2 linked regions of the Homo sapiens genome follow. The protein of the gene in region 2 binds, or shares a complex with, the protein of the main gene of each other region. Each region holds a gene or a part of one and is shown on either strand. Other genes may lie near its edges. The genes, in order: H2AX and PAXIP1. A codon is read from its position in the direction of its gene.

Region 1 (7,149 bases), on a different chromosome or scaffold from region 2:
GATCCTTTCTGGTAGCCCTTCATCCTATCGTCCGTCCTCACCACTTTTCTAAAAATTCTTAAATCCTCCTCCCCTAGGTGGCACTACTTCTTTTCCTACCATCTCTCCCCGCAGGAATCCTGTACTATGTCTACATGGGGCTGCTGGCAGTGTTCTGTACCAATGCCATCAATATCCTAGCAGGAATTAACGGCCTAGAGGCTGGCCAGTCACTAGTCATTTCTGCTTCCATCATTGTCTTCAACCTGGTAGAGTTGGAAGGTAGGTGGGATTGGGGGTGGGGAGAGAGAAGTCTGAGTGTTAAAGGTGTGGCCTGATATATGACTTTGGGAAATTCAGGGGAAAAAAGCAATATGCATAGTAATTATAGAAGATAAGGGAAGCTACTTACTTTGCAAATAACAATGCAGATTTATTAAAAGTGAGAAAGAAAAATAGTAGCCCTGTCATTTATAGCTGGATTGGCACTAATAGCTAGGCCATGATCTTCTCCCATTGAATATAAACAGTTTCACAGAACCCCAACGTTACACAGGGTCATTCTGTGACCGTGATGGAGCAAGACTAAAACTAGACCCCTCCCTCTGTAATCATGTTTGAGCACAGGCAAAACCACAAGAACACTGAGCAACCCACAAAATGGCCAAGATCCCCTCTCTCGGCTAACATGAGCGACTGCTGCTGCTCTCCAATAACAACTCAGTTCCTACCACTTCTTTTTTTTTTTTTTTTTTTTTTTTTTGAGACAGGGTCTCCCTCTGTCATGCAGGCTGGAGAGCAGTGGCGCGATCTTAGCTCACTGCATCCTCTGACTCAAACGATCCTCCTGCCCCAGCCTCCCAAGTAGCTGGGGCTACAGGCATGTGCCACCACACCTGGCAAATTTTTGTATTTTTTGTAGAGACAGGGTTTCACCATGTTGCCTAGGCTGGTCTTGAACTCCTGGGCTCAAGTGATCTGCCAGGCCTCCCAAAGTGCTGGGATTACACTCTTGAGCCACTGTGCCCAGCCAGTTCCTACCATTTCTTAAATAAACATTAAAATGCTTGATCATAGAATTACTCTTGCTTTCTTTTCTTTTCTTTTTTTTTTTTTTTTTTTGAGACGGAGTTTTGTTCTTGCCCAGGCTGGAGTACAATGGTGCGATCTCGGCTCACCGCAACCTCCGCCTCCCAGGTTCAAGCGATTCTCCTGCCTCAGCCTCCCTAGTAGCTGGGATTACAGGCATGTGCCACCACGCCCAGCTAATTTTGTATTTCTAGTAGAGACGGGGTTTCTCCATGTTGGTCAGGCTGGTCTCGAACTCCTGACCTCAGGTGATCTGCCTGCTTCAGCCTCCCAAAGTGCTGGGATTACAGGCGTGAGTCACCGCACCCGGCCATGAATTACTCCTGCTTTCTAACAGCACCCAGTCCAGAGCAAAACTACTTTCTTTCACCCTCTCCCAAAATACCCAAAACAAACGCTACTACAAGCCCCTCCTAACACCCTCTTACTGAGACATTCCGTGGTTCCCAATGGTGTGTGGTTTCTGAAGTCTCCCTTTTTACAACAAGTCATTAAACCTAGCTTTGAACTATAGATGTGTTTCTGATGGTCTTTGGCTGATGAACATCAACAAGTGTTTATTAAAGCTAAGTACTTTTTAAACACTATCTTATTTAAATCTTGTAATGGTTTTATGTGGCAGATGTTATAATCAGCCCTGTTTTACAGATGAGAAAACAGGCTTAGAGAAGTTAAATGTGTCATGATCAAGATCAAGGTCACAAAGCTAAGAAGTAAAGTTGGTATCCAAACTTACATCAGAATGGGCTAAACCAAATTTAAGATAGTAACTAGTTTGGAAGGCTGCACGAAAGAGGTGGAATATTGGGAATTGCCTTGGGTGACATAAAAGGAGTATTGAGTTCTTAAAAGTGACTTGGGTGAGGTGGATGATAACAGCTGTAAACAGAACTTAGACAAAAATAGGACCAAGGTTTGCAGAGGAAGTGGGTATTAACTTTTCCTTCTTTCTTCCTTGCTTCCAAAGGTGATTGTCGGGATGATCATGTCTTTTCCCTCTACTTCATGATACCCTTTTTTTTCACCACTTTGGGATTGCTCTACCACAACTGGTAAGTAGGCCTGTGGATAAGGGGACAACTACCTGAACACATGGCAAAGATGGCCCTTATCATAACCCACCTTGTGGTGGTGAAGCTAAACCTGCGCATACCTCTATGGAGTTTTCTGCGTCTTCAGTTGGTCGTATTCTGAAATTTCTCTCTACCCAGTAGTAGTTAGGGATGAGTGCGTGGAGGCCCCAGGAATAGATGAATTCAGGGCCTTGGATCCTGCAGAGTTGCTGCACAACTGGAGTCTCCTCTGAGTCAGAACTAGGGTCAGGGCTAGTCCAGTGCCCATAGGGTGTGATGTGAGAGAAGGGATTGGTAATGCCTCTTGCCACTGGCTCGGATCCTCTTCCCCCACACAGGTACCCATCACGGGTGTTTGTGGGAGATACCTTCTGTTACTTTGCTGGCATGACCTTTGCCGTGGTGGGCATCTTGGGACACTTCAGCAAGACCATGCTACTATTCTTCATGCCCCAGGTGTTCAACTTCCTCTACTCACTGCCTCAGCTCCTGCATATCATCCCCTGCCCTCGCCACCGCATACCCAGGTAGCCGCTTTTTGGCTTGAAATGGACATCATAGCCTTTTCACTTGGGATATCTAATGCCAGCCTATACATTTGCTGTGCAAAGGGAGTGGGCCCAAAGAAGGGCTATTTCCATGTGAGTAGCCCTTTATAACTTACAAAGCACATTTATTTGCATAATCTGCTACAGTGGTTCTGATAACAGTAAGCAGCAGAGCCAGAAATAGATCTCAGGTTGACTCCACATTCAATGCTCTTCCTATTAGCCACAGGGAGGAGGGTTCAAATAGTGGCCCAGTCACATGAAGCTATCTTCCCCCCGCAGACTCAATATCAAGACAGGCAAACTGGAGATGAGCTATTCCAAGTTCAAGACCAAGAGCCTCTCTTTCTTGGGCACCTTTATTTTAAAGGTAACAGGGTAACAAGGAGGTAAGGCCCTAGGCTGCCATCCTGACCTTGAGGAATGGGGAACCTAGTCCTACATCAGATCCAAGGGGAACTTGAAAGCATTAAATAGATCCACATTCCTAAAGCATAGGTATTAGCTGAGGTTCTCTTCACCTCTGGTCCCTCCAGGTGGCAGAGAGCCTCCAGCTGGTGACAGTACACCAGAGTGAGACTGAAGATGGTGAATTCACTGAATGTAACAACATGACCCTCATCAACTTGCTACTTAAAGTCCTTGGGCCCATACATGAGAGAAACCTCACATTGCTCCTGCTGCTGCTGCAGGTGAGGATGGGAATCGAGTTTATACCTCCGTGTCTCCCTTTCTGCGTGATTCTTACTCCAGTCCATTTCTCCTTGCAGATCCTGGGCAGTGCCATCACCTTCTCCATTCGATATCAGCTCGTTCGACTCTTCTATGATGTCTGAGTCCCTTGATCATTGTCCTTTACCTCACAGTCTCTAGGATTCCTGACTCAGGCTGACCTCTCTCTCTGGTCCCAGACTGCCTCCTTGCCCAGGCCTCTCTCACTCTTCATACTCCTCCAGATTTTGTTCTCAGCATTTTCCTTTCTCTGTGATCATTGGCATCCTGGGCGTTTCTTGCCCTCTGCTGACTACTGATTGGATTTTACCTATGGCTTTCTGCAACTTGCTACTCTCTCCCTCTCCATCCCATCTTTGCAGCCTCATAGGGTGGGATACAGCAGCTTTTTTTGCAGTTATCCACACTCACATTTCAGAGTCCTGACTCTCAAGGAACCACTGGTTTTTGGGATAGAACTTGGGCCAGGGCTAGGAACACAGGCTCCACGGTGACATGTCATTTGATTGTAAATTAAGTGTTCTGATTAGTAAGAACTAAGCAGGGGGCCACATGCTCTCAATGGAGACAATAAAGTGTTGTCTTTTTCTTATTGTTTATGTAGGTATATTTCCTATATGGGCATTTTTGGGTAGATTGGGAGGGGTGGTGGGGGTACTTCCTCCAACAGGATGCCTATCTCTCTGCCCCATCAGACCCCGTCTAACAAGAAGTGAACAGAACTGAGACCAAACAGAACATATTGAATAAATATTTAAATCCTGATACTAGAGGTGGCATGGAGGGCCACAAAATTGAAGTTATCCTGTTTCCTGGCATGGGAACAAACTTTCAAAGAGTCACCGGGTGCAGTGGCTCATGCCTGTAATCCCAGCACTTTAGGAGGCTGAGGCAGGAGGATTGCCTGAGCCCAGGAATTCAAGACAGCCTGGGCAACAAAACGAGACTCCGTCTCTACAAAAATAAAATAATTAGCCAAGTGTGGTGGAGCACTTGTAGTACCAGCTACGAGGGAGGTTTAGCAGGGAGGATTCCTTGAACCCAGGAGTTCGAGGCTGCAGTGAGCTGAGATCACACTACTGCACTCCAGCCTGGGTGACAGAGCCAGTGACACCCGGTCTATTAAAAAAAGAAAGAAAGAAAAAAAAGAAAACTTTTAAGGGGTCTAATTTCTTCACTTTTCCATTCTCCCTTTGTCAGGTAGGAGAAGGGAGTAGGGAGTGACTGGACCTGGAAAGGAGGGCTGCAGTAGCTATAATATTGACCCCTTTCCTTTAAAAATCCTACGCCGGCACAGATTTCCCAGACGCTCTCTAGGTGGCCTCAGACTCCACCCCTTTGGTCTTCCGCTTCTGGTTTCCGATTGTAGTGTTTAAATCTCGCGCGCTTTACAAGGATTGGCTACATCAGCGGATAGTTGGCAGTCTGCGTGCTACCCCTCCTCCTCGCCTTTTCTCCCCGGGCAAAAGGTTTTCAAATTCGACCAATCAGCGGGCGCGCTCCCTCAGCCGAGCCGCGACACCCAAGGGTTAACCGCAACCAACCGGAGGCGGGTATTGGAGAAAAGAGCCAATCAGGAGGGCGCAGAGGTGTGTCCTGGGGGCTTATAAAGGCGGCCTCGCGGCGCGCGCGCGACAGCAGTTACACTGCGGCGGGCGTCTGTTCTAGTGTTTGAGCCGTCGTGCTTCACCGGTCTACCTCGCTAGCATGTCGGGCCGCGGCAAGACTGGCGGCAAGGCCCGCGCCAAGGCCAAGTCGCGCTCGTCGCGCGCCGGCCTCCAGTTCCCAGTGGGCCGTGTACACCGGCTGCTGCGGAAGGGCCACTACGCCGAGCGCGTTGGCGCCGGCGCGCCAGTGTACCTGGCGGCAGTGCTGGAGTACCTCACCGCTGAGATCCTGGAGCTGGCGGGCAATGCGGCCCGCGACAACAAGAAGACGCGAATCATCCCCCGCCACCTGCAGCTGGCCATCCGCAACGACGAGGAGCTCAACAAGCTGCTGGGCGGCGTGACGATCGCCCAGGGAGGCGTCCTGCCCAACATCCAGGCCGTGCTGCTGCCCAAGAAGACCAGCGCCACCGTGGGGCCGAAGGCGCCCTCGGGCGGCAAGAAGGCCACCCAGGCCTCCCAGGAGTACTAAGAGGGCCCGCGCCGCGGCCGGCCGCCAGGCCTCCCCATGCCACCACAAAGGCCCTTTTAAGGGCCACCACCGCCCTCATGGAAAGAGCTGAGCCGCTTCAGACTGCGGGGCAAGCGGGCCGCGGCTCCCTTCCCCTCCCCTCCCCTCGCCCGCCTTCGCCGCCCGGCCTCGAGTCCCCGCCCGCCCCCGCTCCCGTCCCGCACCGCCTGCCGCGTCGGCCTCGGGCCCTGCCCTGTCCGCCGTCCGCCCTCCGGTAGGGTTCGGGCCTTCCGGATGCGGCTTGGGCGCTCTTCGGGGACCTCCGTGGCGCGGAAGACCCGAGCCTGCCGGGGGGAGGCCGGCGGCGCCGCACCTGCCCGCCTCGGCGTTCGTGACTCAGCCGCCCCATCCCGAGTCGCTAAGGGGCTGCGGGGAGGCCGCAGCACCTTCTGGAAGACTTGGCCTTCCGCTCTGACGCAGGGCCGAGGTGGGCAGTCCAGGCCGAGAGGCCGGCGGCCCTGAAGGTGAGTGAGGCCCTCGGCAGCTGCAGCCGGGGTGTCTGGTACCCCCCCGGCGTGGTGCTTAGCCCAGGACTTTCAGACGCGGCCGCTGGCCGGGAGGCTTTGGTGGGAGAGACGCGATCGCCGATTTCGGTCTGGCGCCCCTTCTGCGGCCGGGACCCAGGCCTTTCACATCAGCTCTCCCTCCATCTTCATTCATAGGTCTGCGCTGGGGCCGGGACGAAGCACTTGGTAACAGGCACATCTTCCTCCCGAGTGACTGCCTCCTAGGAGGACATTTAGGGGAGGGCAGAGGCCTGCAGTTTGGCTTCACGGCTGGCTATGTGGACAGCAAGAGTCGTTTTCGCGGAAGCCGACTGGCAGCCAGGCCTGTCGGGCCCCCCGACGCCGCCCCATTTCCCTTCCAGCAAACTCAACTCGGCAATCCAAGCACCTAGATACCAGCACAAGTCGGTTAATCCCTGTCTGGACTGAGCCTCCGTTGGCTTCTGAACTGGAATTCTGCAGCTAACCCTTCCACGACTAGAACCTTAGGCATTGGGGAGTTTTAGATGGACTAATTTTATTAAAGGATTGTTTTTTTTTTAAATGGAGCGTTTGTTTTCATTTTGCAAGAGAGTTGTAGAATTAGTGACTTTCTATACTTTCCTGATAATAGGGGTGGGAGGGGCCATGCAATATAAACAGGCTCTACTGTTAACTGAAGGGGCAAACCATAGGAATTTAAGATTGTGGCTCTGTTTCTTGGTGTTCCTGGGAGACAATTTATTCTGTGTGAAATGAAAACTATTGAGGCAGAAGCAGAAAGGACGTACCAGGAGAACTCTGGGCAAAAGTCCCAGCCTCTGAGGTAAGGATGAAAGGGCTTTGTGTTTGTTCCTATCTTCCCGCCAACTCCACACGCGCACACACAACACCTTCAGAACTGGTTTATTAGTAGGATTGGTTACATTCAAAGGCTGTTGCTTGGACTTCTCTAAAGAGATGAAGCCCCCACATACTGAGGAGGCAAGGCAGTCATCAAGGCCCCAAGGTGAGGCAAATCCCTGGAAGGCTTGAACCCTGCAGTTCAGTCTCCCGGGGTAATCA
Region 2 (13,451 bases):
CTGTCCTAGAGTTACCTCCCGACAGGCCTTAGCCTGCTTTTGGAATGAAATACACTCTTACAATAATTCAAACACCCATCTGATTCAAGGCATCAGATCTGTTTCCCATGACAGGTTTCCCTGGCTCAGAAAACTTCCAGGCAGTGGTAACGTGGGACGAGTTCTGCAGCAGGCATAAAGGATGGCCTAGGATTACTTACGACATACAGAAGCCATGCTCTACCTTGGTTTAGCTGAAAGGACCTGAAGCTAAGGGAAGTTACTCAGACGTTAAAGATGTCCACAGTTATCTGGCAACTTTCCACACAAAACAGGACTTTAGGGCCAGCACGGTGGCTCATGCCTGTAACCCCAGCACTTTGGGAGGCTGAGGCAGGCGGATCACCTGAGGTCAGGAATTCAAGACAAGCCTGGCCCAACATGTTGAAACCCTGTCTCTACTAGAATACAAAAATTAGCCAGGCGTGGTGGCAGGCACTTGTAATCCCAGCTACTCAGGAGGCTGAGGCATGAGAATCACTTGAACCCGGGAGGCGGAGGTTGCAGTGAGCTGAGATCGTGCCATTGCACTCCAGCCTGGGCAACAGAGCGAGATTCCAGCTCAAAAAAATAAATAAATAAAAAATAAAAATAAAATAAAACAGGACTTTAGCAAAAACCCTGAAAAGAGCTATAGTGAAACTTCAATGTACTGCTTGCAAGATACTGAGGAAAAGATATAAAACAAATTATGTTTACTACTGACCTTTACAACAGGTAAGTCAAAGACTTCCCGAGCTTCTCCCACCTCTGGATTGTCCCCATCCTCTGAGATTATGTGTGAGGCTAGTGCATTGTAGGAAACTTCCTTCGCTTTTCCAGCCTTGAGAAGCTGAATAACCTAAAAAACAAGAAAATCCACACAAATTAAAATGGGCAATACTGTACTGTACTCTTGAATTACAGAAATAATTATTGGGCATAATAGTACTTTTTAATAAAAACACACCATATTCCCCACATAAAAACTAACAGCCTTTTACTCTGAATAATATGCCAATGAAACTTTCGGGGACAATCAAAAGCAGCAAATCTTGATTCACTGACCAAGTCAATGACCAAGTAATGGAGGCTATTGTGAGTCCAGTAGTGGACATGGTCTGTCCTCAAGACAGATGGGCTGGACAAACCAGGAGACAGCACAACCACTGCTGCGGTGGGGCCACGCACATGGTGCTCCTGAGCTTCCAACTTAAAGACTGGGACATGGGGAGTTTCATAATTAGGGAAAGATTCTGGAAGACAAGATATGTGAGCAGAACCCTCATAAACGTCTGGGTGTTAGGCAAAAATCCATACATCGAGGAAGAGGGAGCAGTGTTGAAGGCACTGAACAGGTGAATACAGAGCAGACCGTAAATGGGCTTTCTTACACACTATGCAAAAAAGTCTGTGCTTCATTCTGGGGTATATGCAGGGCCACTGAAGGATTTCACACAGGAAAAGTAGCACAGATTTCATACAAAGATGACAGTCCATGTGAAAAGAAAGGATTGGGTGGGCTGGCTGTGTTTGGTTGGCTAGATGACTAAAGACAAGAGACCTGTTAAGAAACAAGTGCAATAACCCAGGTGAAAGAGGCATCCACTAAAGTGATGTCCTGATGGGCAGAAAGGAGGAAGATGTGAGAGAATCGGCAAGCCTTGGTGTCTGGAAGGGGTATAAGCAAAAGAGCAAAGTCCAGACTGAAATGGTGGTGAGTACCACTCACTGAGGAACACATCAGAAGGCTGGCAGGTGGGGACACAAGGACGTGTTTTAGTTTGGGCATGCCATTCTTTGGGGGTCGTGTTAATATCTGGCAAGAGGCATCCAGTTGCAGCTAGGAAAAGATGTGGATCTCCCTGACAGAAAGTCATCAGCATTGTTACATAGATGGGAGCCACAGCCATGAGCGTGAAGGTGGTCGCAGTGCAGAATGGGAGGGGAGCTAGAGAGCAGACACAGCAACTGATACTTCAGGGACAGGTAGGGAAGTGCAGTATCACAGGAGAGGAGCGTCAACAGAAGCCAAGGAAGTGAGGGTTAAGGAACAGTCGACAGTCAAGTGCTTCAGAAGAGGTGGGCAGTGTCTAAGCTGACAGTGCACACCAACTGTCAAAGTGACATGGTGCCCACAAAGCTCAAGTGACCCACCAGGGCAACGCTCTTCCAGGTCCCCTCTCTGCAGCAGAGAGCTTTCTTCTTTCACTTATTAAACTTTTGCTCCAACCTCAAAAAAAAATAAAGTCACCCACAAGCTAGACAACCTTTTCAGAATACTTTACCGACCACTAATAGATATGAACTAGAGCAGAGGCTCAATATTTAGTAAGTGAAAAAACAGCGGTCACTGGCCATGGGCCACTTTACCTTTCTTCCTTCCCTTGACCTCTAAGCATTTTTAGCTTCACGCATCCATTCGACTGGTCTTCAGAAAAGGCACCCCTCCTTTTCCTATCCTCCAGTCTGTTTCTGATCCTACTCCCTTCTTCATGAGTTTCCCTGTCCATAGCTATGTTCCCTCCACCTGTAAACAGTAAAGTCACCCACATCCTTCCACGCGCTTGTGATGCAACACAGATCCCTCCCCAGCCCTCTCTTCCTCAGGCACCTTCTCTATTTCCTTCTCAGGACAAACTTCCTGAAGAGTCTAACCTTTCTGTTCTCAGTTTCCATTCACTCTTCAACTCCCTGCAATCCAGCCCCTTCCACCAACACTCTACCAAAAACACTTTACTCGGTTTTCACGAACTTTGAGGATGCCAAAACCAATAGCTTCTCTTCAATCTCCACACTACTGAGTATCTTAATAGATTTATCTCATATCACTCTGTTCCAGATATAGTGATCATCCTGATGTATCCCAAACGCATGAATGCCTTCATTCCTCAGCACATACGCTCCACATGAAAATATTCCTTCATGTTCTTAACTTCTGCTTATCTCAAAACCCAACTGAAATGACATCTACTGAGTGACATTTCAGTGGTGTCTACTTTGCACCCCAGTGGAGAAATCTGCTACACCTTGTACTGTGATATGTCCAGGTGTGCTCCCTCCCCCACCAATGAGGGGCGCTAAAGGGCAGGTACCATGTCCTCTTCACCTCTGTATTATACCTGGCACCTAGTCCATGCCTGCCTCATATTAGATGGTCAACATGTGAACTTATAATCCACAGTCATAAGAGTCAGAGAATCAGATGTCCAGGCTCAAAACTTTTCAGAAAATATACTGTTTCAGATGAAAGTGGTTTGCCAAGGACATTTTTAAGCACTTAGATTTGATTCAAAGTCGAGTAAATATGGTTCCAGTTCAACTTGTTCCAGGTTTTAAGTAACATTTGGTTCAAGTCCCCTATAAGAGCCAAAGTCCTAAAATGAAACACGAAGGCTAGGAAGGAGGGGGAAGAGAAAAATGGTGGATAGCAAAAAACAAAAACAAAAAAACAAACAAAAAAAAGAGGGGCGGGGGAATCATCAATACTGGAAAAAGCTAACACTGTTACAGGCACTCATCTTCATCGCTCCGTGTTCAGCAACTGTTTTACTCTGTAAATTCAAAGATAGAAGGCTTTTTTTTTTTTTTTGAGACGGAGTCTAGCTGTTGTTGCCCAGGCTGGAGTGCAGTGGCGCGATCTCGGCTCACTGCAACTTCCACCTCCCAGGTTCCAGCAATTCTCCTGCCTCAGCCTCCCGAGTAGCTGAGACCACAGGCGCCCGCCACCACGCCCGGCTAATTTTTGTATTTTTAGTAGAGATGAGGCTTCACCATGTTGGCCAGGCTGGTCTCGAACTCATGACCTCAGGTGATCCACCCGCCTTGGCCTCCCAAAGTGCTGGGATTACAGGGGTAAACCCGGCCTTGAAGTCTCTTTACCCTAAAGTTACAGGGCAAAAAGGGTCCAAAAAGTTGTTACAAGGACGAACCTCAAGAAGGCCAAGATCACTCAGCCTTCTACAATTCCTTCTACACCATCCAAGTTCATCTGCGAAATATGAGTCTCCGCCCTTCCAGGCCTAACTCTGATCACTGGGGATCCCCATCCTCCAAGGTGGGGGCCACTGATGTCACACCCAAGGCAACACAACTGTACAGCTAAACTTTTAAGAAGGAAATATTTTGAAGATTAACCTGAAGAGGATATTCAACTAAGATGCATTCCTACCACGGACTGATAACTGTGTGACATCAAACAGATATATTATTATAGGAATACTAAGGAAAACCCACAATATCCTTTGGCGTGAGCCCAAACTACACAAAATTAAATGTGTAATGTGATGGTGTTACCAGGGTACCGTAAAATTAATCGTCCAAGTGGGAAAATCAAGGAAGACGAATGCCAGCCCCCACGTGCAGGGACACAGGCTGGAAGGGAGCGCTCCTCAGCCCCGCACAGGACGGCAGCTGCCCGGGTGGCGGAGGCGGCCAAGCCGGTGCACGGCCACGACCCCCGCCGGCCGAGCGAGGCTGGGGTCCCCGCGCGAGCTGCCCCGGCTGGGGATCCCGGCGCCCCTCGTCCGCCCTCGGAGCTGCTCTCCCGGGAGCCGAGACGCCCGGCGCGGGGAATGGGGAGACGCGACCCCGCGCCCGTCCCGCTCAGCAAAGGAGCAGAGAACGAGGCGGCCCGGTGGGTCGGGGGCGGCGACCCCAGGGCCGCAGGCCGGGGGCTCAGGGCGCGCACTAGGGGCCGAGGTACAGAGCCCCAGCCGCCTTCCCTCCCGCACTCCCCCGGGCCCGGGCCTCCCGCGCCCACCCCGCGGTCGCCCCTGCCCTCAGCGCAGTCAGGCCAGCGGCCTCGGCGGACCCGACGCTCTGCGCCCGGCGCGCGCCCGCGGCAGGAGCGGGGACGGGGACGGGGACGGGGACGGACGGGGACGCGGACGGGGGAGGAGGCCGCGGCAGGGGCGGGCGCGGTACCTGCGGGTCGATGTCGCCCACCGCGTAATACTTGACCTCCCTGAACATCTCCTCAGGAACTTTGGGCGCCTGGTCCGACATGATCGCGGCGGCCCGGGAGGCTCCGCGGCGGCGCCCGGCCCCGCCCACCCCCCGCCCCCGGCCCCCGCGGCGCCCGGCGCCCCCACTCGCCCCGCCAACGGCCCTGCCCGCGCAGCCCGGGCCCGGTCCTGCGAATCGGGGTCCGCTCCCCCGCCCTCCGCGCCCCCGCCCGCGCCCGCGCCGAGCGCCCGAAGCGCGGGAGCCGCGCGCGCCCTGCGGGACGCACCATCCCGCCCCGGCCACCGAGGGGGAGCGCCGAGGAGCCGCCCGGCCTCCAGTGACGCCCCGCGCCTCTGCCGCCAGCCACGGCTCCGGGGTAGCTGGCGCCGGCAGCCCGCTCTGGCCCTTGCGGTTCCGTGGCCGCCGCTCTGCAACGAGGGGGCCCCGAGGACGAGGGGAAACCAGCTCCCCCCTCGGCGGGGCCGGAGTGAGCCGGTCCCGGGGAGGAGGGGAGCTGGCAGGCCCCTCCCGTCGCCACATGCGGCTGCTCGGGGGCGGCGCATGCGCGCGGCGGAGGGGGGGGTGGGGCCTTGGGGCCGCGAGTGGGAGCGGGAGCGGTTCTGCGGCCTCCTCGGGCTTCTTGGCCCTGGGCGGAGTGGGATTGGGTGTCCCGGCTGTTCGCAGTGGCCGCGAGTGCGGCCGGACCTGGAGTAGTACCTGAGCCGCTCTGGCCGAGCAAGGCGCGGGGCCCCGGTCTACACCGCGCTGGACCCGGCTATGCCGTGACGGAATTCCCGAGGCCGTAGCGCCACGCGAGACGCGCACTGGTGGCCTCCGCGGCGAGTCCTGGGGTCTCCGCAAGGCCTCAGTGCCCGAGCTGGGGACGTGCTGGGGGGAGGCCCGGCCCCGTCGCTGCCCGAGGCCCCGCTGTCCCGGCCGGACCGGCCTGGTCCCTGGCGTCCTGTCGGGTCCGCGCTGGAGGAGAGTCCCAGACAGCAGAGCCCGCGGTGCAGCTCCAGCCCCGGGAAGCCCCGCGCTCAACAGGTTAATACTACACAGCGGCGATTCTAATGGTCACGCTTTTATTTACAGCTCGCCTCCCTTCCGCCAAGATTCACAGAACACGGCAGAGTGGCCTCGGGATCACCTGCCCAAGACACCTGCACGACCGGAAGTTGGGAGAAGAAATTAAGGCCATGATGATGAACGCAGCCTTTCTCGTTTATTTCCAATCCCACAACAAACCGGAGTCCAGGAACTCATGGGTGATTATCGGACTATTACCTAGTCGTAAAACTGTGGAGCATTGGTGTCTAAAGGAATCTGAGACAGACCCGCAGTGTCTCCCCCACATGCCTTAAGTCACTTCTGCCAAGCAGAAAATCATTTTTAAGTAAATGTTAGTGAAATTGGTTTTAAAAAAGAGAAGGGGCCGGGCGCGGTGGCTCACGCCTGTAATCCTATCCTTTAGGAGGCCGAGGTGGGCGGATTGCCTGAGTTCAGGAGTTCGAGACCAGCCTGGGCGACACGGTGAAACCCCGTCCCTACTAAAATACAAAAAATTAGCCGGGCGTGGCGGCACGCGCCTGTAGTCCCAGCTACTCAGGAGGCTGAGGCAGGAGAATGGCTTGAACTCGGGTGGGGGAGGTTGCAATGAGCCGAGATCGCGCCGCTGCACTCCAGCCTGGGCGACAGAGCGAGACTCTGTCTCTGAAAAAAAACAAAACAAAACGAGAAGGCTTTCAAAATTACTCTGCGGTACACTAATTTAACAGATTAGATCACTTTCCAGGCTTTAAGTTGGCCTTTGTTCTACCCTTTTTTTAGTGTATGATAAAAGTTGTGTTGGTTCGTTGATCAGCATGCAATGAACTCTGGCTCTTGTTAATCAGGTGACTACAGTTTTGTCCTTACATTTGTATGTATGTCATGAGTGGTTTTGTATGGGCAGGAGGTAAACAACGCACATTTAAATATACTTAATGATTTATCATTCCAATGTTTTCTGGTTGTTTTAGTCTTTCATTTGTCTCTTGAACAATCTGAAACATCCCTATTCTAAGGCTAAAAAATTTCCTTTACAAACTTAGGTTAAACATTCCTAATCTGAAATCCAAAATGCTCTAAAATTCGAATTTTTTTGAGTACTGACGTGACCCCACAAATGGAAAATTCCACACTTGCCCTCATGTGACACTGGGTGACAGTCAAGTCACAATCAAGCCTGGTGTGGTGGGCACCTGTAGTGCCAGCTACTCGGGAGGTTGAGCAGGAGGATTGCTTGAGCCCAGGAGTTTGAGTCCAGCCTGGACGATATAGCCAGACCCTGTCTGTAAAAAAACAAAAACCAAAACAAAAAAAACAATGAAAACATTTTTTTTTAAAACGCCATCAAAACTTTGTTTCATGCACAAAATTATTTAAAATATATAATATAACCTTACCTTCAGGCTATGTGGGTAAGGTAAGGTGTATGTGAAACAAATGAATTTCCCATTTAGACTTGGGTCCCATCCCCAAGATATCTTATTATGTATATGCAAATATTCCAAATCAAAAATATCTGAAATACTTTTGTCCCAAGCATTTCAGATAAAGGTTACTCAACCTGTAATAAAAACACTCAGTGCTTGCCTGAAGGAAAAACCAAGAATTTGTCATCCATCCTTAAATTTTTATGACACCCTTTGTAATCAGGAAACCTTTTAATACCTAAGAATATATTTGATATATTCTGGTATATGTTTATCATTCTGATGTTTAATGTTCTATGTTGGGCATATATCAGTGTAATAAATACATTAGATCCAAATACAGATCATGCTGCCTTTTTATCGACCTGTGTGAGAGAACTTATTTATCCTTTTCTTTTTCTTTCTTTTTTTTGAAACGGAGTCCCACTCTCACCCAGGCTGGAGTGCAATGGCGTGGTCTCAGCTCACTACAACTTCCACCCCCTGGGTTCAAGCGATTCTCCCACCTCAGCCTCCCAAGTAGCTGGGACTACAGGTGCGTGCCACCACACCTGGCTAATTTTGGTATTTTTAGTAGAGACAGGTTTTCACTATGTTGGCCAGGCTGGTCTTGAACTCCTGACCTTGTGATCCTTCTGCCTCGGCCTCCCAAAGTGCTGGGGTTAAAGGCGTGAGCCATCACACCCGGCCCTCCCTTTGATTTTCTTGGTTAAACACAAACTAAGCATGTGATTTTATGTTAAAAGACCTGAAGTGGACCTCAACCAGGTATTTTATTTTGTGAATTAAGAAAGCAATTTGTAACGTTCAAGAGAACAAGCTTACCCTACTTCAGGTTCTGATGGTAAGGCAAATTGCGGGATTAAGAAACCTGCTATTTAAGGCCAGCGTGGTGGCTCACCCCTATAATCCCAGCACTTTGGGAGGCCAAGGCAGGCAGATCACTGGAGGTCAGGAGTTCAACACCAGCCTGGCCAACATGGTGAAAGCCAGTCTCTACTAAAAACAAAAATTAGCTGGGCATGGTGGCGTGCACCTGTAATCCTACCTTCTTGGGAAGCTGAGGCAGGAGAATCACTTGAACCCGGGAAGCAGAGGTTGCAGAGAGCAGAGATCACACCACTGCACTCCAGCTTAGGTGGCAGAGTGAGACTCTAAATAAATAAATAAATCTGCTATTTAAAACCCCATCACCTAGTCAGTATTTGTAAAATATCACACGTGAACTGTGCAAGGCGGTCCACACAAGTGGATCTTACGGCAACAGCATCAGGAAGGCCTGGAGGCAGTGTCACACTCACTCACTGAGTCTCCAATACTACTGCTTGGCCAGTAATGAAAAATAAAAATGTTTACATTAGGTTAATTTCATGTGGATAAAGGATGCTCTGAGGCAGTCTAAAAAACTAGCATCCTGACATCATGAAGAGTAACCCATCTAGCAGAGGACGTAAAGATGGCAAGTCAATATTTAAAGGCAAGCGGTAAACTCAGAAATTATCTTCCCCAAAATGGCCATATGCAAAGTTATAGGAACAAAATATCATGTTGACAGTGCTGTATCTTATTCACAGTTAAATAAAATTCTTATCACTGGTTTTGTGACACTTTAAGGATGACCCATTTTAGGGTGATAGCTATCAGTTTATTAAACAGAAGCTATGCATTTGTTTAATTTGAAGCATATACCACTTCCAAATATGACACTGAGCATTAATATTTTTAGACTTCCCCCAGGTAAATTAAAAGCATGATCATTTTGTTGATAATCAGCCTTTGGAGAATTAAACAGCCTGCTTACTGCCAGTGCTAGTTCAGTAAATATGTTTCTCATTTTCTATTTGGCAAAATTAGATAACCTAAGCCTAGGAAAAATAAAAAATTAGAAAAAAAAAAGTAGATTTGGGGATATTTAACTCAAATTGCCCTTACTGGTGGAAACTCGAGGCAGTTACTTAGATTATTTCCAAATGGCTTTTTTTAAATGTATTTCTATATTGTATACAACAGTCTCAGTCTTCATCTCTCCTGTTCAGCTATCCATACATCCCTTAAAATTAGATATTTTTAATGTTTAGTAAACCTTCAGTTTGGGTTTATAGACAACATTTAACCTTCTCATGAAAGGGTCAGAATACTCCAGTTGCAGGCACAAACAGGCCATAGTTTAGTTGAAGGAGAAACTGCGAACTCAAAGGAGCACTGCTTCTCTGCAGGAAAGATCCCGTCAGTGGACCTGCGGGGCACAGCTGCCACCAGTGTCATGTAGCTATTCAGTGTCGGAAAACTAGAAATCACAAGTGAAGAGAAATTGTAAATTACCTCAAATTCTATGCCCAGAAGCAACCACTATGGAAATCCTTCTAGACATTGTCCCGTATAAATATATTTCCCTAAAAAAAATTATACCCCATACTCTGCCACTTCAAAAAAATCAAGACTGTTTTTCCATGTCAATAAATATCTATATCATTTAATGAATACATAATACTCCCTTGTTTGAATGTACAATATTCTGTATTGTTGCACATTTGTTGTTTCCAATTTAACAATTACAGTACTCCAATGAAGCAATCATCTTAAAATACATGTATAACGTATTATAATGTTCCATCCTTTAAGGTTAGAAACGACGTCCCATACCTGTCTCCCGTCACTCTGAGAACAGTGCGGTAACAGGATCAGCGATTCTCAACCATGGGCAATTTAGCCCCCTATGGCACATTTGACAACGTCTGGAGACATTTTTGGTTGTCACAACTAGGGGGTAGGGGATGCTACTGGCATCTAGTGGTGGAGGATAGGAAGCTGCTAAACATCACGCAACGCATGGGACCGTCCTCCATGACAAAGGACCCGTGCAAAATGTCAATAGTGCCACTGTTGAGAAACCCGGATTAAGATCATGTTGTAACTACATTTCAGTGGGATAAGACTTTGAAAGTTTCCACCGGGCACAGTGGCTCATGCCTGTAATCCCAACACTTTGGGTGCCCGAGGCAGGTGGATCACTTAGGTCAGGAGTTCGAGACCAGCCTGGCTAACATGGTGAAACCTCATCTCTTACTAAAAATACAAAAACTAGTTGAGCATGGTGGTGCGCACCTGTAATCCCAGCTACTCGGGAGGCTGAGGCACGAGAATGGCTTGAACCGGTGAGGTGGAGGTTGCATTGAGTCAAGATTGCACCACTGCACTCCATCCTGGGTGACAGATCTAGACTCTGTCTCAAAAAAAAACGAAAAAGAAAGTTTCTTGCACATAACGCCTTGGTGGCTTCCTTCGGACAGCTTTCTTCCAAATGGGACTTGGCTTCTGTCATGTGGCTTTGTTAGCTGTACAGATGGGGACAAAGCATGTAGAGTATCCTGCTGCAGTTTCTATGGCTGAGCTAGCAAGAGTGGCACACATACCTCCAGCCATTTCCACTGGCCAGAACCTGGTCTCCTGACACCTCCGTAAGCTGTAAAGGAGACTGCTGGGTGATGTGGTCTTCTTACACGTCCAAGAAAAGAAAATGGCATTGATGGTATCTTGCCAATTTTTGCCATTTTTGGTTTTCAAAAAAATTCTTATATGAATTAAGATTAGTGTAATATAAAACAAAATTCTCAAAGATAATTTCAAAAAAAATACCCGTTAGCTACTCAATAGATATTTGTTGAATTTGAGGTTACTGGCTTTATACATAGAGGATTAAGCGTATTCTTTTTCCCGCCTGGCCAAATGGTAAAACCCCATCTCTACTGAAAATACAAAAAAATTAGCCAGGCATGGTGGTGCACGCCTGGAATCCCAGCTACCCAGGAGACTGAGCCACAAGGATCGCTTGAACCTGGGAGGCAGAGGTTGCAGTGAGCTGAGATCATGCCAGTCTGGGCCACAAAGTGAGAGTCTATCTCAAAAACAAACAACAAAGAAACAGCATTATTTTTAAAAAGCAAACACAAGGTAGTTCTCTGAGGCATGTGAGGGATGTGTTAGATGCCTTCCATTTGTCCCACTCCCCATGTCAGATCTGTACTCCATCCTGCTCCACCTTTTTCTCCGCCCCTGGGTGCTGACCTGAGCAGATTATATAAGTAGAATCCCTTGCACATTGGCTTCTAGTTGAATTTGGTCAATGGGGAGTCCCAGCAGAAAGCTGGGCAGTGAGGGGAGGGAGGAGAGAGGTATGACGGTGTTTATTTCCCAGGTTCCTCATCAGGTTGCCTTGAGCTGGCAGAGGAGCCCATTCTATACAACTCTCTCCTTCCAGGTCCTGGGAATCTTTCCTTCCTCTCATCCCTTGGACCTAGGGTGGTGAGGGCTCACCTGCTTCTCCCCACAGGTCCCTTCACTCTCCATGCATCCTGCCTACACCTTTGTAAGTAGTTCCTTGATAAACCTTCTTAGATGATTGTAATTTGAGTGTGCTGCCCCCAGTGGTGACCCTGTTGTGATGGACAGGAAACTCTTACAGGGACAATGAGAAATTCTTAAAATATTGTGTCTGCTCTCAAAAAACTAACAAATACTTGGATGCACGAGCCTAACACTAGTGGGATTCTGTAGAAATGCAGCAGAGATTTAGAAAAGAGGTTCCCATGTGCCAGAATAGCTGGGGGAAACCTCTTGGATGGAGCGGGCTGAGGGGAATAGTTCTTGAAGGGAGAGGAGAAACCACTGAAAAGAGGCCAGAATACTGATATTGCCAAATAAAAGGGTGCACATTTTGGATATTAAATAACTGATGATTTAAGATAGAAATGGGGAGTAATAAGAAATAATAGACTGTGTCTAGCGTATGAAGATCTTGAGACCTCATCAGAGGAAGTTGTTGCATTTGAGACTTAGCATAATTCTGTGGCTGTGAAAACAGAAAAGAAAATTGCTTACCAGCTATTTAAAGTTAAGTACTTTGTGACAAGCTGGCTGTGGGATTGACTGTTTACTCATGTTGTGGGTAAACAAGAAGACATATTGAATCTTAACTCAGATTTTAACCGCTGGTACCTGTGAGTGTGACCTTATTTGGAAGTAGGGTCTTTGCCCCCATCATTAAGATGAGGTCCTACTGGATGAGGATGGGACCTAAATCCTGTCACTGGTGTTCATATAAGAAGAAGAAAATTTGAACACAGACACCCAGGAGAGTGCCAAGTGATGACCGCGACAAGGGTTGGGGTGACGTGTCTAGAAGCTGAGGAACACCAAGGTTGCGGCAGACACCAGAAGCTGGAAGAGGCCAGGACCGCCTCTCCCCTAACGCCTTCAGAGAAAGCACAGCCTGGCCACCACCTTCATCTTCGATTTCTGGCCTCCAGAACTGAGAGAATGAATGTCTATTGTTTAAGCTGCCAGTATGTGGCACTTTGTTACAGTAGCCCTAGCAAGCTAACATTCAGTATGTCTGAAGGGTAGTCAAGAGGAAGCTAGAAATTAAGATGTCGGCCCATGTTTGGAGTGGATTTAAGCCAAACAGCGTACTATGTGTGCCCTGCTAAAAATTATAATAACGAGAAATTGTTACAGCCTAAGAGTGACCCCAGGATTTGTAACTGACGTTGAGTGCCCAAGAACTGCGTGATAAGTCTATTAAGATAAAATTATTTCAAGTCCTCACTTTCGTTTCTTTACGTTTTCTCTCTTTTCCTATTAGCATATACACATCCAGTGGTCATTTGAAGCCCGGGTGCGTCAAGTGGTAAAAGCTTTCCCTGCTAGCTTATGCTGTGGGAACTAACTCCCAAAGTTCAGTGGCTTCAACAAAGCTCGCTTCTCACTCATGTGTTGGGCAGGCGTGGCTCTGCTGCTCTTTTTTCTGGAAACTCTGCAGAAGGCATAGGCAGTTCTAGTGACCAAGGGGAAAGAAGAATGGCAGAACCGCGTAATAGCTATAAAAATTCTCTCTGGAATTCACACACATTCCATTTGAAAGTCAGTCTCATTGCCAAACCTGATGTCAATGTGGAAGTGAATCTGTTCCTGCCACAGGAAGTTACTCCAGGTCATGGCAGAGTGGGCAGGGGT

Evidence for each region.
Region 1: the proteins of PAXIP1 (region 2) and H2AX are in contact, whole or in part, in a crystal structure (PDB 3SQD), measured with the Homo sapiens proteins. Residues at the interface, in NP_031375.3 of Homo sapiens: Phe871, Thr872, Gly873, Phe874, Pro876, Lys907, Thr909, Arg910, Thr911, Val912, Lys913, Pro986, Glu1050, Leu1053; in NP_002096.1 of Homo sapiens: Gln138 (codon at 5,540), Ser140 (codon at 5,546), Gln141 (codon at 5,549), Glu142 (codon at 5,552), Tyr143 (codon at 5,555).

What each region holds. Positions count from the first base shown.
Region 1 is NC_000011.10:119,093,374-119,100,522, reverse strand, and holds H2AX (histone H2AX), read left to right. Parts: upstream 1-5,057; 5' UTR 5,058-5,128; coding exon 5,129-5,560; 3' UTR 5,561-6,649; downstream 6,650-7,149. Other genes in the region: DPAGT1 (UDP-N-acetylglucosamine--dolichyl-phosphate N-acetylglucosaminephosphotransferase), read left to right, coding at 115-261, 2,036-2,120, 2,480-2,668, 2,972-3,059, 3,226-3,525. UniProt on the Homo sapiens protein: Variant histone H2A which replaces conventional H2A in a subset of nucleosomes. Nucleosomes wrap and compact DNA into chromatin, limiting DNA accessibility to the cellular machineries which require DNA as a template.
Region 2 is NC_000007.14:154,997,905-155,011,355, forward strand, and holds the start of PAXIP1 (PAX-interacting protein 1), read right to left. Parts: upstream 5,221-13,451; 5' UTR 5,026-5,220; coding exon 4,945-5,025; intron 3,636-4,944; exon of another isoform or gene 2,176-3,635; intron 881-2,175; coding exon 746-880; intron 1-745.